Homo sapiens: one gene and its partners. The protein of the gene in region 1 purifies or fractionates together with the protein of each later gene. This does not show direct contact. Each region holds a gene or a part of one and is shown on either strand. Other genes may lie near its edges.

Region 1 (4,179 bases):
CTGGGCCTGGAGCCGGGTCGCCAGGGTGCAGCTCCAGTGGAGGACCTTCAGCCCCAGGGCCCCGCTCAGCCTCCTCCTCCTCCCCTTCCTCAGCCTCTTCGGGCCCGGACTGTGGTTGCGGCTGCTGTGCCTCGTCATCCTCCTCCTCTGGCTTGTCACCCTCCCCAGCCCCTCGCCGCCTCAGAGCCTTGGCCCTGGTGGCTGGGGGGGACTTGCTGCCACTGCCAGGACCTGAAAGGCCAGTGCATGCCTTCTTCATTGGCTTCATTTTTGTCCACCTGCAGGGTGGGAGAGCGGAGGATTACGCGGAGCAACTCAGGAACCTCTCCAGAGCCAGTGTACCCTAAGATTTCCCACTTGCTGAGTCTACTGTCTCCATCCCACCATCCCCAAGGCCTCCTCTCTGGCTGCTGTCAACTCATGTGATACCTCAGTCAGCACCAGGCACAGGTGAGCACCTGAGTCCCCTGAGTATACACACTCTGGCTCCTTGGGGAACAGACACCTGCTGGCTCTGCAAAGGACACAGAGCACATGCTCTGAATGCCCCAAGGGGACATCAAAAGCACTAACAGTTCACACCTATGGAGCACTCCCTGTGTCCTGAACTCCATGCTAAGCTTGCCTTTATTAACCTGTTTCATCCTCACAACAGCCCTAAAAGCAGGTGCTACTATCGGCCTCATTTCACACCTGAGGAAACTGAGCCACAAAAAGATGAGACAACTTGTCCAAGATCATCCAGGTGGGAAACAGCAGTGCTAGGGTCTGAACCCAGGCTCTCTGGCTCCAGAGTCCGTGCTCCTGACCATTTCAGTGTGCTGCCTGTCACATGATCCAGAGGGCACATTTACTCGCACTGTCACCATGCAGAGAGTACATGCACTCAGACACACACACACATGCACAAGTACCAAGTCACAAAAAGGGTGGTGACTGGGCTGTGATATGAGCCTTTCTCCACCCCCCCACCCTCCCTCTGCCCCTCTGGGCAGCCTGGCATGGCCAGGCACTGTGGGAAGAAGTGGGCAGCTGAGAGTCCCGAGGGACGGCTGCCCACTCTGCTCTGCACCCTAGGGCTGCCAGGTACAGCCATCTCCCCAGATCCTGGCAGGGAGCAGGCAGGGGCATGTCTGGGGCAAGAGCTCATACCCAGCACTGCCACGGGGCCGTGCATGAGCACACGCACGCGCACAAACACACACACACGCACAGAAGCACGCACACGTCATCACACAGTGGGACACAGAGCTACACCCCAGGGTTTCTCTGTCCCACTGGATGGGAGCCTGCTCCTCCCCCCACAGCACCCAGCGTGATACCCGCAAGCCCAGCCCCCCTCTTCTTGCCTGCATGCATCCCCGCCCTGGCTGGGCTGGCTCTGGCAGGGTGGCTGAGTCGGCTAGCCCCCCGCAGGCCCCCAAATATGCCCTCCAACTCCAAGTGGGGATAGGTGGGATAAGGTCAAAGAAAGCAGGACAAGCCCAACAGGCCAACCTCACCCACTTCCTGAACAGTCATTACTGCCCGCCCCCTTTCGAGCTGCCCTGAGAAAAGAAAAGGGGAAAAAACTTTACTCTGAAGTGACTAAGAGAACCTGAGAGGCCAAAACAGAGGCCTCTAGGAGGGTTGGGGGACCCAGAACCATAAGCCAAACACAATGAGAGGCAACCCCGACTCAGTCTTCCAGCTACTGGGGGACCCTTGACCTCATGCTCTCTCACTAGGGGCCTGCTCCTCCTGTGGACCCTGGAGTCCCAGGCCTGCCCTTTCTTGGGCCAATCCTGGGGTCCTCACAGGCAGAGCCTGGAGGGCGTCCCGGGGCTGGCACCCAAATGCCCAGAAGTTGGGCAGCCATCACCACCTAATACCCGCTGACCCACTAGACTACCATGTTGGGGACTGAGATCTGGCTCCAGTTTTTTCCAAGCACAAACCTTTGCATACCCCACCCAGGGCCTACAACTATGCCGCCTGGACCCCTAGACCTTGCTGCCTGGCCCAGCCTCTCTTCGCCCCAGAGCTGCTTTCTTTCCCCTAGGGCCTACTCTCTTCCTGTCCACCCTGTCTGAATAACTCCCACCCAAGCCCCGGGGGCCCTCACCTTCCTCAGATCTGAGTAGTAACTCCCGGAGCCCAGGCCAGCCCAGGCCCTGGCTCTTTGGGGTCTCATACCCTCTGTTCCCATTAGCCCTCCTGGCACCAGCTTCTCTGACACTCTCTCTCTCATCCTGTCACTACCTCTATCTCTACCTCTCGGTTAAAATGCCCTAGGCCCCCTCCTGTCACCCCCTCCTTGTCACCCCCATTTATCTCTGTCACCTATTCCTCCCAGTCACTGTCCTGTCAGCCATCTCCGGACCTGTCACCTTCTCTCCCCATCACCTCTCCTTGTCACACTCTCCAACTCTGTCCCCTCCCTCTCCCTGTCACCCTGATCTAGTCCTGTCACCCCTCCATTCCTGTTACCCTTCTTTGCCCACCACCCCCTCCCCCAGTTACCCTTTTTCTGTCAAACCCCCACCACTTCCTCCACTCCCTCCTCCCTTCCCACCATTCCGCCCACCCCTTTCCCCCTGTACCCCCTCCCCGTCCCTGCCACCTGTCCCCTCTCGGCCCCCAGCCCCCCGGACCCCCCTTTCCTGTGTCAGCCCTGGCCCCGCCCCTCACCTTGGGCTCGGCGGGGTTTCGGGGCGGGGGGCCGTGGCCCCGGCTCGGTCCGGTCCGGTCCCTCCCCGCCCCCCCTCCGGCTCTCCCTCTCGATTCTCCCTTTTTTTTTTACTCCAACACACAAAATGGTGAATGGACCTGCAACAGCTGGAGCAGCCAGCCAATCAGCGATCACAACCCCACTGACCGGCGCCAGCCTAGACCAATAGATATCCGCAGACTGGTCGGCTCCGCCTCTCGACGACGAGCGACGCTCGCGGCGACCAATTGGGCCCATCGGGCAGCGCTAGGGGGCGGGGCCAAAGTCCAAGACCGGCCTCCCTCCGGGACCGACACCAACCTGAGCCTACGACTGCCTGATCTGCCTAGGGCCCTACCCTACAACAAGTGAAGGACACCAGTCGTGTCCAATTGCAGGCCGTCTTAGTTCCAAATGACAAATACAGTACCCAGTCGCCATGCAGCCTAGGCCGGAACCCAGCCTCTGTGAGGGACAGTAGCCAATGAAATGAAAGGAGGAGGGGCTAAGGGACGGGTTGTCCAATGAACGGAGGTAGAAGGCGTGGCCCGAACGTTTGTTGACCGGCTAGTCGCAGTTCCTGCTGGGAACCGTAGTCTTCTCACGTCTTCGGCCCATAGCCGACAGTACAAGGCAGACTACAACTCCCATGTGACAGAGTGCTTGGAGCACCAAAGAAACCCGGCGAGGAGAAAAAGTCGAAAAGGGCAGTTCGTCGTGAGTCTCACTGGACGCCAGGAGTATCTTAGACCCAGGGCCCCGACTCACCCGTATTCCTGGCTCTGGCGTCGCCGGTGGCTCCTCTCAGTGGCAGCGGTAGCGGCACGAGGGGGAGGTGCAAGGAGCAGCCAACCGCCACCCGCGAGCCCCGCAGCCAATCAGCAGCGGCCGGGGCGGTGCAATGACCTCACCGGTTCTACTCTCTTACCCCTCCCCCACGTGGTTGTTGCTGCCGGTAGACGGAGTAGGGAAGTTTGGATTGGGGGAGGGGAGGAGAACCAGTGATGTCACCTTTCCCCTTGTTGATTGGCTGCCGGGTGGCCGGGACTACGACCAATTGACGGTCTCGAAAAGTCTGGCGCGGCCCCGCGGAAAGCCCTGTTGCCACCGGGAGGGGAGAGAACGCGCGCTTGTGGGGTGTCGCGCGCTGCAGTATAGGCAACGCGCGCGGCCTGGGGCCCGGGGGACAGGTCACCTCCTCCAAGAGTTTGACATTTAGGACAGCGCAGTTTGACAGCCCACTAGGCATTGGGGCAGGGGGCCGAGATGACGAAATGCAGCGCTTCTTGGGGCTTCGCACTGCATTACGTGGAGAGCTACACTTTGTGGGTGTACGCCCCTGACAGAGGCAGATTTTTAAAGATCCCAGGGGTAGGAGGGTATCACACTGGAGTGGAGGAGGACAGGGAGATGCCCTGTTTGTAGTAGATGCCTGCTGCCCAGATACGGGTTTACAACCAGATGGTGAACCTGTCTGCAATGCATCTATG
Region 2 (3,500 bases), on another chromosome or scaffold:
TTAAGGAGTCTCGCTTTGTCTCCCAGGCTGGAGTACGGTGGCGCAGTCTAATCTCACTGTAGCGTCCGCCTCCTGGGTTCAAGTGATTCTCCTGCCTCAGCCTGCTGAGTAGCTGGCATTACAGGTGCTCACCATCATGTCTGGCTAATTTTTTTGTATTTTTAAAAGAGATGAGGTTTCACCATGTTGGCCAGGTTGGTCTTGAACTCCTGACCTCAAGCAGTCCACCCGCCTTGGCCTCCCAAAGTGTGGGGATTACGGGTGTCAGCCACCACACCTGGCCTATCCTAATTTCTGGATAGCTTTATTGCAGTTGAAAATCAGGGTTCCAGCTGGTGCGGTGGCTCACGCCTGTAATCCCAGCACTTCAGGAGGCCGAGGTGGGTGCATCACCTGAGGTCAGGAGTTTGAGACCAGCCTGGACAACATGACGAAACCCCATCTCTACCGAAAACACAAAAATTAGCCAGGCGTGGTGGTGAGCACCTTTAATCCCAGCTACTGGGGAGGCCGAGGCAGGAGAATCACTTGAACCTGGGAGGTGGAGGTTGCAGTGAGCCAAGATTGCACCACCGCATTCCAGCCTGGGTGACACAGCAAGACTCCATCTCAAAAAAAAAAAAAAAGGAAAATCAGGGTTCCTTGATTTTTTGATATTTTGGTGGGTTTTCTGACTTCTGCAGTAAATCACACATTTTGTTTTATGTAAGACAGTATTAAAGTCATCAACTCTTGCCAGCACATTCTTCTGTGAATTGTTTAGGTTTTGGCAAGACTAACTTCCCAGTTGCTTTTCTGTGACACCTGACCAACTTTTAAAATATAAAGCACCTCTGTGCCCAGGGGAAAGTCTCGTGCGCCCCGCAGTGGCAGCGACAGAGCATGGCGGGCCGAGAGTGACTGTCGTGAGAGTCCTGCCTGCAGCTTGGGGAGGAAGGGAACAGGCATCACAGCCAGGGCTTTACAACTTAAAGCTCAGCCTTTATTTACATTTTAGTTCAAGATGGGTTCTTTGAAATCTCAAATATTATGTCAGAATTAGAGAAGGAAGAAAGTCTGCTGATTGATAGGTTAAGATAGTTTTCCTGATGGTGATTCCACAAAGTGAGTGCCTGGCTGGCCGGGTGGAGAGGAGTTGGAGGGGAGCCCTGTCTCGGAAAGGGGCGTGGCGTGGTTGTGAAGACCTTGGACCGGGAGGGTTTCCTGGCACACAGCCCAGCCAAGGGTGAAGTGTGGACACCTCGCTGGGCTTCAGGGCACAAGAGACCTTGCTCATCACTGCTTCTGTGTTACAGACCAAGCTCCACGAAGATCTCTGTGAGAAGAGGACGGCTGCCACCCTTGCCACCCACGAGCTCCGTGCCGTCAAAGGGCCCCTGCTGTACTGCGCCCGGCCCCCACAGGACCTCAAGGTGCTGCAGCCTCCTTTGCAGGGTCTGCTGAAGAGTCTCCTTGGTGTCGAAAGACGCCATGCTGCTACTGCAGCCCGAACTTTTTTTTTTTTTGGAGATGGAGTTCCATTGTTGCCCAGGCTGGAGTGCAGTGGCACAATCTCGGCTCACTGCAGCCTCTGCCTCCTGGGTTGAAGCGATTCTCCTGCTTCAGCCTCCCGAATAGCTGAGTTTACAGGCATGTGCCACCACGCCCAGCTAATTTTGTATTTTTAGTAGAGACGAGGTTTCTCCATGTTGGTCAGGCTGGTCTCAAACTCCAGGCCTCAGGTGATCCGCCCAACTTGGCCTCCCAAAGTGCTGGGATTACAGGCGTAAGCCACCGCACCCGGCCTGAACATTTTCTTTAGAGTAGGATCCGATGCTGTTCTTGCAAAGACATGAAATAATGAAACAGACCGCGTTTGCGGTTACTCGAAGCGGTGCACAGCTGTGAGAGGACTCGGCGGATGAGCAGTCGTTGGGAAAATGGTTTCCTTCACTCGCTCACTACCTTTTAATCAGAAATTTTGGTCTCTGTCCCGATAGTAAAACCGTTTGCGTGGGGTTGGCAGTAGGGTGAGTTGCTGTGTCGTGCTGTCCTGGGCTGTTGAATCTGTGGAGTGCACGAGGTCCCGGCTGCTCAGCCTTTCTCTCCTCTTTTGGCCTTCTGAGGATGGCAGACCTCTGGAAACAGTTGTGCATGAGCTGGCTTTAAGGTTAAGCCCTGCCTCAGTAGGATCGGTGTGTTTGGGCGTCAGGTCTCCCCGGGACGCTGCAGTGGCAGCCCACATGCAGCTTCTTGCTGCGTGGTCCCGTGGGATGCTCCCTGCCTGCTGTAGAGATGAATGAGGGCGGGAGTCGGGAGGGCTCATTGAGGCTTAAGGCCGTAATCGACACGATGGGCGAGTTCTGTGGCTGTGACCCTAGTGGAGTTTGTGGGTTTCTGCCCGATAGATTGTCCCCTTGGGGCGGAAAGAAGCCAAGGCCAAGGAGCTGGTGCGGCAGCTGCAGCTGGAGGCCGAGGAGCAGAGGAAGCAGAAGAAGCGGCAGAGTGTGTCGGGCCTGCACAGGTGGGCAGCGTGCCTGGTGGGGTGGGGCCGGGCCCGGGGGAGTGCCGCATGCTGGCCTCAGCTGAGTTAGTCTGTGCTCCTCAGGAACCGCCTAATGCTACCAGAACCCAGAAGCTTCTTAACAGGGTACAAAGAAAGCATTCTCTTTCCAAAGGAGACGTTGTGGAACCAGTCTGTCATCTAGATGGCCCTGACGTGAGGGAAGTGGAAGGTGTTAGGAGCGGAGGTATTGGCCATTCCACAGGGGGCGGGTGGCCCTCAGGATGGGACAGGACAGGATATAAACTAGCCATTAGGAAACAGACATAAATGCCAGCCCAACCCACAGCATTTTATCCATACCGTGCGCTGTTGGGTATCATCCAAGTCAGGGTCCTTGGTGCTGCTCTAAGCAAGATGATCATCCGTAACTAGCCCAGTGATTTCTGTAAACACAGGCTTCAGAATACTTTGTTCTTTGAAGCTTGTTATGCTTGGGCCCTTGATATTACACTTAATTTGTGTAAAGAACTTTTTGAGTCGTCCATTTTACCCTTTAGGTATGTTTTCAGGTGTGTGCTTTTTTTTTTTTTTTTGAGATGGGGTCTCACTCTTGTCGCCCAGGCTGGAGTGCAATGGCACGATCTTGGCTCACTGCAACCTCCACCTCCTAGGTTCAAGCGATTCTGCCGCCTCAGCCTCCCGAGTAGCTGGGATTACAGGCGCCTGCCACCATGCCTGGCTAATATTTGTGTTTTTAGTAGAGACGGGGTTTCGCCATGTTAGCCAGGCTGGTCCTGAACTCCTGACTTCAAGCAGTCTGCCTGCCTCAGCCTCCCAAACTGCTAGGATTACAGGCGTGAGCCACCACGCCCAGCTGTGCCTTTTTTCTTTTTTTTTTTTTTTAAGATGTGGTCGCGCCATGTTGCCCAGGCTGGAGTGAGGTGGCTAATCATAGGCGCAGTCCCACTACTGATCAGCACCGGAGCTTTTTGTCCTGCTCTGTTTCTGACCTGGG
Region 3 (3,500 bases), on another chromosome or scaffold:
TTGAAGGTGGGTAATGGCTCTGACTTGGGAGGCTCCAGTTTGCCAGGGAAACTCCTGGCACTGTCTCCATTCATAAAAGTAGAATCAAATTTCCCACAGTTGTGGGGATCTGGAGGCAGATCTGAGCCCCGGAATCCATTGTGTAGGAGACTGGGAGTAATGTGGTCTTTCTCCGCTTCAAATGACTCCTGGCGGCTGGTGTTCTTGACAATGACACTCACGGCCGGCACATCGGGGGCTGATCCTGAGTGAGACAAGGACACACTTTCATCCATACATATGCCTGGAGGTTTGAGGGGACTCTCATTCTCCTCACTGGGTGTCTGGATGGCCTCCTTGGCATCAAGGCTGGTGGGGTCTGGGATGTCAAAGGCAGCCAGAAGGTCATCAAAATCTGGGGTTTTCATATCCCCCATGGCTGGATGCTGGCAAGGGCTGTAACAGAAACAGAAAACAGAATCAGTGACCACCAGGGTCCCACTGGACCATCTTCACTACACACCCATCAAACTAATGCACACACAGCCAGCACACCCATGCAGAACCCCACATACTATGACAGGAAGCCACACACCTCAGTTTTACCCCAACAGGTTTCTAAAATGCTGGAGAGGTGGGGGCAGAGATGGAAAGAGTAGTGAAATGTAGCAACAAGCCTGCCTGGATGATCTTAAACCTCAGTACCTGGAAATTGGTGGCTGGTTATTACAAAGCCACAGAGAGTATACTCCTACCATACTCCCTCAGCTTCTCAGGGAATATCATCCCTCCACGATCATGTGCACTAGCAAAAAGCCACTTAGCACTTCCAGCCTTTAGAAAACTACTGATTAATACATGAAACCTGGCTATAACTTCTGCTAATTTACTCTTAGTAATTACTCACTAACTTTATATAACTTTGGGGTTTCTTTCTGCATAAATTCAATCAAATCCAAAATGATTTGCTATTTGTGTTGTCTCATGAATAAACTCTAGAAAATTATATCATCCCTAGGTATTTTTTCTCTGTTCAGCAGACACACTTGATTCCTTTTCACCCTAAAACTGTTATCAGTTGGTGAATGCTCCTCCATTAAACCTGAGGAACAGGGTGACTTGCAAAGTACCAACAGTTATCAAATTGGCCAAGTGACAGTTTGGGGGAAGCCTAAATTCTATTTTGACTAATATACAAAGAATAGGATAATAATTCTATTTTAAATTAATATACTTGTCTCCTTCATGATCTGGGAAAGCAGAGCTACAGAACTACTGCAACAGAGGAAACACAAGGCCCTAGAGAGACCTTCCATTAGGAAATTCTTATAAAACTCACACTTCAGATGAAACATGAAACTGGCTGGCTCAAACCTGCTGGAGGGAGAAGAAAAACCTCACCATCTCCCTTTAAGTCCTGCATCTGCTTCAGCATTCCAGGGCCTTTACTGGCTTAAGTGTTTCTTACGTCACATTTATGTTGAAAACCTTTCTGGATGCAGATTGGCACAATTCTTTCAGAAAGCAGTATGGTAGCTTCATAGAACCAGAAAAGTGGCAAACTTTAGGTCCAGGAACCCCACTTCCAGAAATTTATCCTAAGAACAAAAATTCTCAAAAACTACATGCAAAAGTATATGTTACAGCATTATTTAAAAAGCACAAAAGGGAGACATACACACAAAAATAATTTAAATGTCTAAGACCAAAAAAAAAAAAAAATACTTGATAGACTATAACGCAGTCATTAAAAATTCTCATTAAGGGCCCGTCGCAGTGGCTCTTGCCTATAATCCCAGCACTTTGGAAGGCCAAGGTGAGTGGATAGCTTGAGGTCAGGAGTTCAAGACCAGCCTGGCCAACATGATGAAACCCCATCTCTACTAAAAATACAAAAATCAGCCAGGCGTGGTGGTGGGCGCCTTAATCCCAGCTACTCCGGAGGCTGAGGCAGGAGAATCACTTGATCCCAGGAGGTGGAGGTTGCCATGAGTAGAGATCGCACCACTGCCCCCAGCCTGGGCGACAGAGTGAGCAACTCCATCTCAAAATAAATAAATAAATAAATAAATAATAAAAATTCTCATTATGAAATCTATATAGCAACAAGGAAAATTATTTATAATGTCAAGTTTAAAAAGACTAATACAAAAATGTTGTCAGACTATAACAATGTAAAACTACGCGTGCATTTGAGCCAAGATTTTTTAAAAAATGAAAATGATTACGCAGACTAGTGGAATTACTGTTGGGTTATTTTTTCAAAACTTTTTTAGGGGGCTGATAGATTGCTTTTATAATTTTTAAAGGAAAAATAACAACAACAACAACAACAACAACAAAACCCACTCAGAACCACAAGGCAGCAGGTGGCATAGCAGAGGTATATCTCTTACCACCCCGTGGGATCAACAGGTTTCCAGGTTTGGTTTCTTGCCCCACTCCCAACTCCCAGCAAAACACATCTGCCTGCATATGAGTTCTCACAGAAAATGAAAACTCACTCCCTCCCATTGGGAAGATATCTAATTATGGTAATAATAAAGTACAATACCAATTACCTAAACATGGGTTGGCAGAATACCCCACTGGAATGAGATACAAAGTTTTGAACAGAACGAATGTTTGTCTCTTGGAACAGGAGGTGTTGGAACCCATAAACAAGGGGAACATACTGGATGTCACTGAAAACAGTGGGCACTCAATACCAAGTGACCTACTAGGCAGGGTGATCATAACTATAAGGAAACTCCTGCATGATATTTGCTTTATAAGCTTCTTTTTAATTTCTTTTTTGTTCTTTCTTTCTTCTAAATGTCTAGGAAAGGCCAAGCGCAGTGGCTCACTCCTGTAATCCCAGCACTTTGGGAGGCTGAGGTAGGTGGATCACCTGAGGTCAGGAGTTTGAGACCAGCCTGGCCAACATAGTGAAATCTCATCTCTACTAAAAATACAAAAATTAGTTGGGTGTGGTGGCACACGCCTGTAGTACCATCTACTTGGGAGGCTGAAGCAGGAGAATCACTTGAACCCAGGAGGAGGAGGTTGCAGTGAGTCGAGATCTTGCCACTGCACTCCAGCCTGGGCAATAGACCAAGACTCCAACTCAAAAAAAAAAAAAAACAAAACTGTCTAGGAAAAAAAGATTGAGGGGAAAGGGCAGAATAGATTTTCCAGCTCTCATTAAGGAGCTGGAAAAAGCATGTGGGAGAAGAGGAGGAGAAGTTGATTGTGTGTCTAAGGATTAGCTGGGAGCCTGCTATTATCTAATATGAAGTTGCAGAGGCTTGAAGCAGAGAAAGATTAGATCAGAAGTAAAGCTCTCCTCATAGAGAAATCTCAGGGATTGACTGAGAATGGTCAGAAGTAAAGTAAGTATCTTTTGCTGGAAAATCAGAGCTAGTAAATAGTGTGAGAGCTCAATATTAGCAGCAGAAAAAAAAACTTTTATAGAGATTTTAGGTCAGGCACAGTAGCTCACACCTGTAATCTTAGCACTTTGGGAGGCCAAGGGAGGAGGA
Region 4 (3,500 bases), on another chromosome or scaffold:
GTAGAATTTACTGCCAAGAACCTCCCCAGGCGGATGGGGAGAAAAGAAAAACCGGGAGCAGGTATGGCTGAAGATGGATGATTCTGAGGCTTTTTTTTTTGTAGGGGGGCGGGGGGGAACATGGAGTCTTGCTCTGTCGCCCAGGCTAGAGTGCAGTGGCACGATCTTGGCTCACTGCAACCTCCACCTCCCGGGTTCAAGCAGTTCTCCTGCCTCAGCCTCCCAGGTCGCTGGGATTACAGGTGCCCGCCACCGTACCCAGCCAATTTTTGTATTTTTGGTAGAGACGAGGTTTCGCCATGTTGCCCAGGCTGATCTCGAACTCCTGACCTCAAGTGATCCACCCGTCCTGGACTCCCAAAGTGCTGAGATTACAGGCATGAGCTACTGTGCCTGACCTTGAAGCTTCTTTCTGACTGATAGAGATGAGGAGGGGAGAAAACTGTCTTCTCACATCACCACAATTGATAAATGTATCCTGGCATCCCGTCTCTGAGATCTGGCCCTTCTGATGTTCCCCACCAACTGGGCTCACCTTATGTTGTCTGCTAGCTTCTGTTTGGCTCACTGGGGAATATTGACAAACTGGGAAGTGTCATTCCTACGTGACCTGTTTTTCTTTCTGTTTCTTTTTAGCTGAGATTGGGGATTTTGATGAAGCCTTGGACAGAGAGCACTTAGCAAAAAATAAATACATACCTCAGCAAGACGCACTAGAGGACAAAATCGTGGAATTTCACCATAACCACATGTAAGTCTCATTCTTGGCTTCATATTCCCTCTGAGCCGGTTCTCTCTGCCTCCAACCTACATGGGTGTACATCCCTCCACCCCCCACACAAACTATTGTGGAGAACAACACAAAGCGTGAGGAAAGAAGATCACAGAGGCTCATTGGGATGTGGTGATTCATCCTGGGCTCTCAGAAGCACAGGTCACCCACTGAAGCCTGGAGTTTAAGGATGCCCATGCTTTGGAACAAAAGAGAAAGTAAGAGCAAAGGACCATCCAGTCATCAAGCTAATGACAAATTGGGAAAGGGACGTGGTCACCTAGGGACAAGGTCAGAGTATCGTGAAAATCCAGAACCTTCATAGCATCTGCATTTTTGTTTTTGTTTGGATTAATATTTTCAAAGGACTCATGGTACTTTTGGTTGTTGTTTTAAGGAAGCATTGGAGCCTGACGGCCATGTGAAAAAGTGTTCTCTTGAACTTTGCTTGCAGGTTTAGGTTATTGAAAGCAACTAAAATCTTGTTTTAACCCAGTGGTGTTTTGCTTTTATATGAGCTTAAAGGAAACTCTTTGAGATTCCAAAAAAAACAAAAAAAACAAAAACTGGCTGAGTTTGGAGACTTTTGGGGTTTTATGTTCCATGAGCAGTGGAGGTTTTGTCCTAGCTGCTAGACTTTGGGTTACAGTGAATGGGAGATTGGGTGTCATCTGATCGGGTAGCCCCAGTGTTTGTGATGAAATGCCTTTGTATTTCCCAGGAGAAGCTTCTTAATCTCAAATTAATAGATACAGGGAATTCAAATCTCCTGGCCTTTCTGTTTAATTTTTGTTTTGTCAGTGGACAAACACCAGCAGAATCAGATTTCCAGCTCCTAGAGATTGCCCGTCGGCTAGAGATGTATGGAATCCGGTTGCACCCGGCCAAGGACAGGGAAGGCACGAAGATCAATCTGGCCGTTGCCAACACGGGAATTCTAGTGTTTCAGGTGAGAGCCTTGAGAACACGGCCTGGTTCCCTTGGTGACAGAGAGAGAAGAGCTGGCCCTTCAACTCTGATTCATATTCAGTGGGCTAAGACCTCTGATGGTTATTTTTCGGCGAACAAAGAAAAATTAACCTCATCTCAGGCTTTCTGTTTCCCAGGCCCTCAGCTCCCAGATTCTATTTCACTTACCTTTGCCCTGTTTGGGGAATCCACATTACAGATTTGTTTGGTTTTATTGACTTTGTAGCATCACAGAAACATGTAGCTCTCCATGGACCTACACTTAGAACACAGTCTAATGGAATCGAGATTTTAGGTCCCCGAATAAACACCTTTTTCACACTTACAGATGATACTTTGCTGTAATGTGATCCTTTTTTTTTTTTTTTTTTTTTCAAACACAGTTTGGCTTGAGCCAGCTTATTTGGTCGGGACTTCAGATATACTTAAAGAGTGTTAGGCACACTTTTAAGATACAGCAGTTTTATAAATTCATAAAAGCCACATTCTTGCAATTTTGTAGCAAAACACATACTGCACTTGAATTCTTACTTGTATTCTACTTAAAGACATAATGATTCTCTGCACTCTAAAATGTGTGCTCTATTGATCATTCTGCTATTGGACTGTTTCATTGATCAATGCTTCTCTCTTAGTAGCCTTATTGAAGTATTGTTGACGTACAATAAAGTGCACACACTTGAAGTGCATAGTTTGATAGGTTTTTATTATATATATGTATATCCTGTAAAATTCCCCACAAAACCAACAGAATGAACGTATTCATCACCCCCAAAAGGCTGTTCAGTACATTCCTTTTCAACACAAGTGGGTAACCTGTGCTTTTAGTTTCAAAGGGATATAGAGAAAGCACCCGCCTTTCTCATGAAATAGGATCAGATTTCACCCAGTTAGGAAGTTGTAAATATGTTCAGGACCTAAAACCCTTTATTGAGCTCTTCCAGGTTTGCTTATATTTCCCCCTTATCTTTTATCAAAAGAGTTCCAGTGATTCTCTATTCATGCACCAGAAGTTTATGACAGCATAATTATTACAAATCACATCCCAAGAAGAGTTAAGTTGGCTTCCTGCCAGGTAGTAGGGAGTGACATTGTGAGAGCAGTGTGGTATTCAAGGCGGATTTTTTCTTGACAGTTTTTGACCTGCACGCATAGCCTCTGAGTATCGGATAAGAGAAACAATAGGCCGGGCGCGGTCGCTCACACCTGTAATCCCAACACTTTGGGAGGCTGAGACGGGTGGATCACCTGAGGTCAGGAGTTCGAGACTAGCCTGGTCAACATGGTGAAACCCCGTCTCTACTAAAAATACAAAAATTAGCTGGGCATGATGGCGTGTACCTGTAATCCCAGCTACTTGGAAGGCTGAGGCAGGAGAATCGCTTGAATTTGGGAAGCAGAGGTTGCAGTGAGCCAAGATCATACGACTGCCCTCCAGCCTGGGTGACAGAGCAAGACTGTCTCAAAAAGAAAAACAATAAAGCCAAGTGGAGTTTTGAGTACTATCATTAAATTTCAAATCACAATCCTGAACCATTTCTAAAAAGTATTAAGAAGGAAAAGAAGTGTCTCACAATTGAATTAATGTGCTTTGATTGTGTTTGACACAATCCCTAAGTATTGGGAATACCTGGGTAATGTAGTCACGTGCAAAGCCTGTGTCTCGGAACCCACCTTCTTGCCAGTGCCCTATTGCTTCATTCTTGCCACGTTAAATGAACAGGCCTGGTGTTCCAGTGGGCTCCAGAGGAATTCTAAT

What was found.
Region 2: the proteins of CIC (region 1) and LRRC47 purify together in Homo sapiens (affinity purification with mass spectrometry, with the first as the bait; one large-scale study listed by BioGRID). This does not show direct contact.
Region 3: the proteins of CIC (region 1) and ZNF592 purify together in Homo sapiens (affinity purification with mass spectrometry, with the first as the bait; one large-scale study listed by BioGRID). This does not show direct contact.
Region 4: the proteins of CIC (region 1) and FARP1 purify together in Homo sapiens (affinity purification with mass spectrometry, with the first as the bait; one large-scale study listed by BioGRID). This does not show direct contact.

What each region holds. Positions count from the first base shown.
Region 1 is NC_000019.10:42,267,873-42,272,051, reverse strand, and holds the start of CIC (protein capicua homolog), read right to left. Parts: upstream 2,801-4,179; 5' UTR 2,671-2,800; intron 1,136-2,670; exon of another isoform or gene 694-1,135; intron 279-693; 5' UTR 269-278; coding exon 1-268. UniProt on the Homo sapiens protein: Transcriptional repressor which plays a role in development of the central nervous system (CNS). In concert with ATXN1 and ATXN1L, involved in brain development.
Region 2 is NC_000001.11:3,782,999-3,786,498, reverse strand, and holds part of LRRC47 (leucine-rich repeat-containing protein 47), read left to right. Parts: intron 1-1,295; coding exon 1,296-1,412; intron 1,413-2,387; coding exon 2,388-2,503; intron 2,504-3,500.
Region 3 is NC_000015.10:84,779,592-84,783,091, reverse strand, and holds part of ZNF592 (zinc finger protein 592), read right to left. Parts: intron 436-3,500; 5' UTR 417-435; coding exon 1-416.
Region 4 is NC_000013.11:98,384,094-98,387,593, forward strand, and holds part of FARP1 (FERM, ARHGEF and pleckstrin domain-containing protein 1), read left to right. Parts: intron 1-636; coding exon 637-751; intron 752-1,573; coding exon 1,574-1,721; intron 1,722-3,500. UniProt on the Homo sapiens protein: Functions as a guanine nucleotide exchange factor for RAC1. May play a role in semaphorin signaling.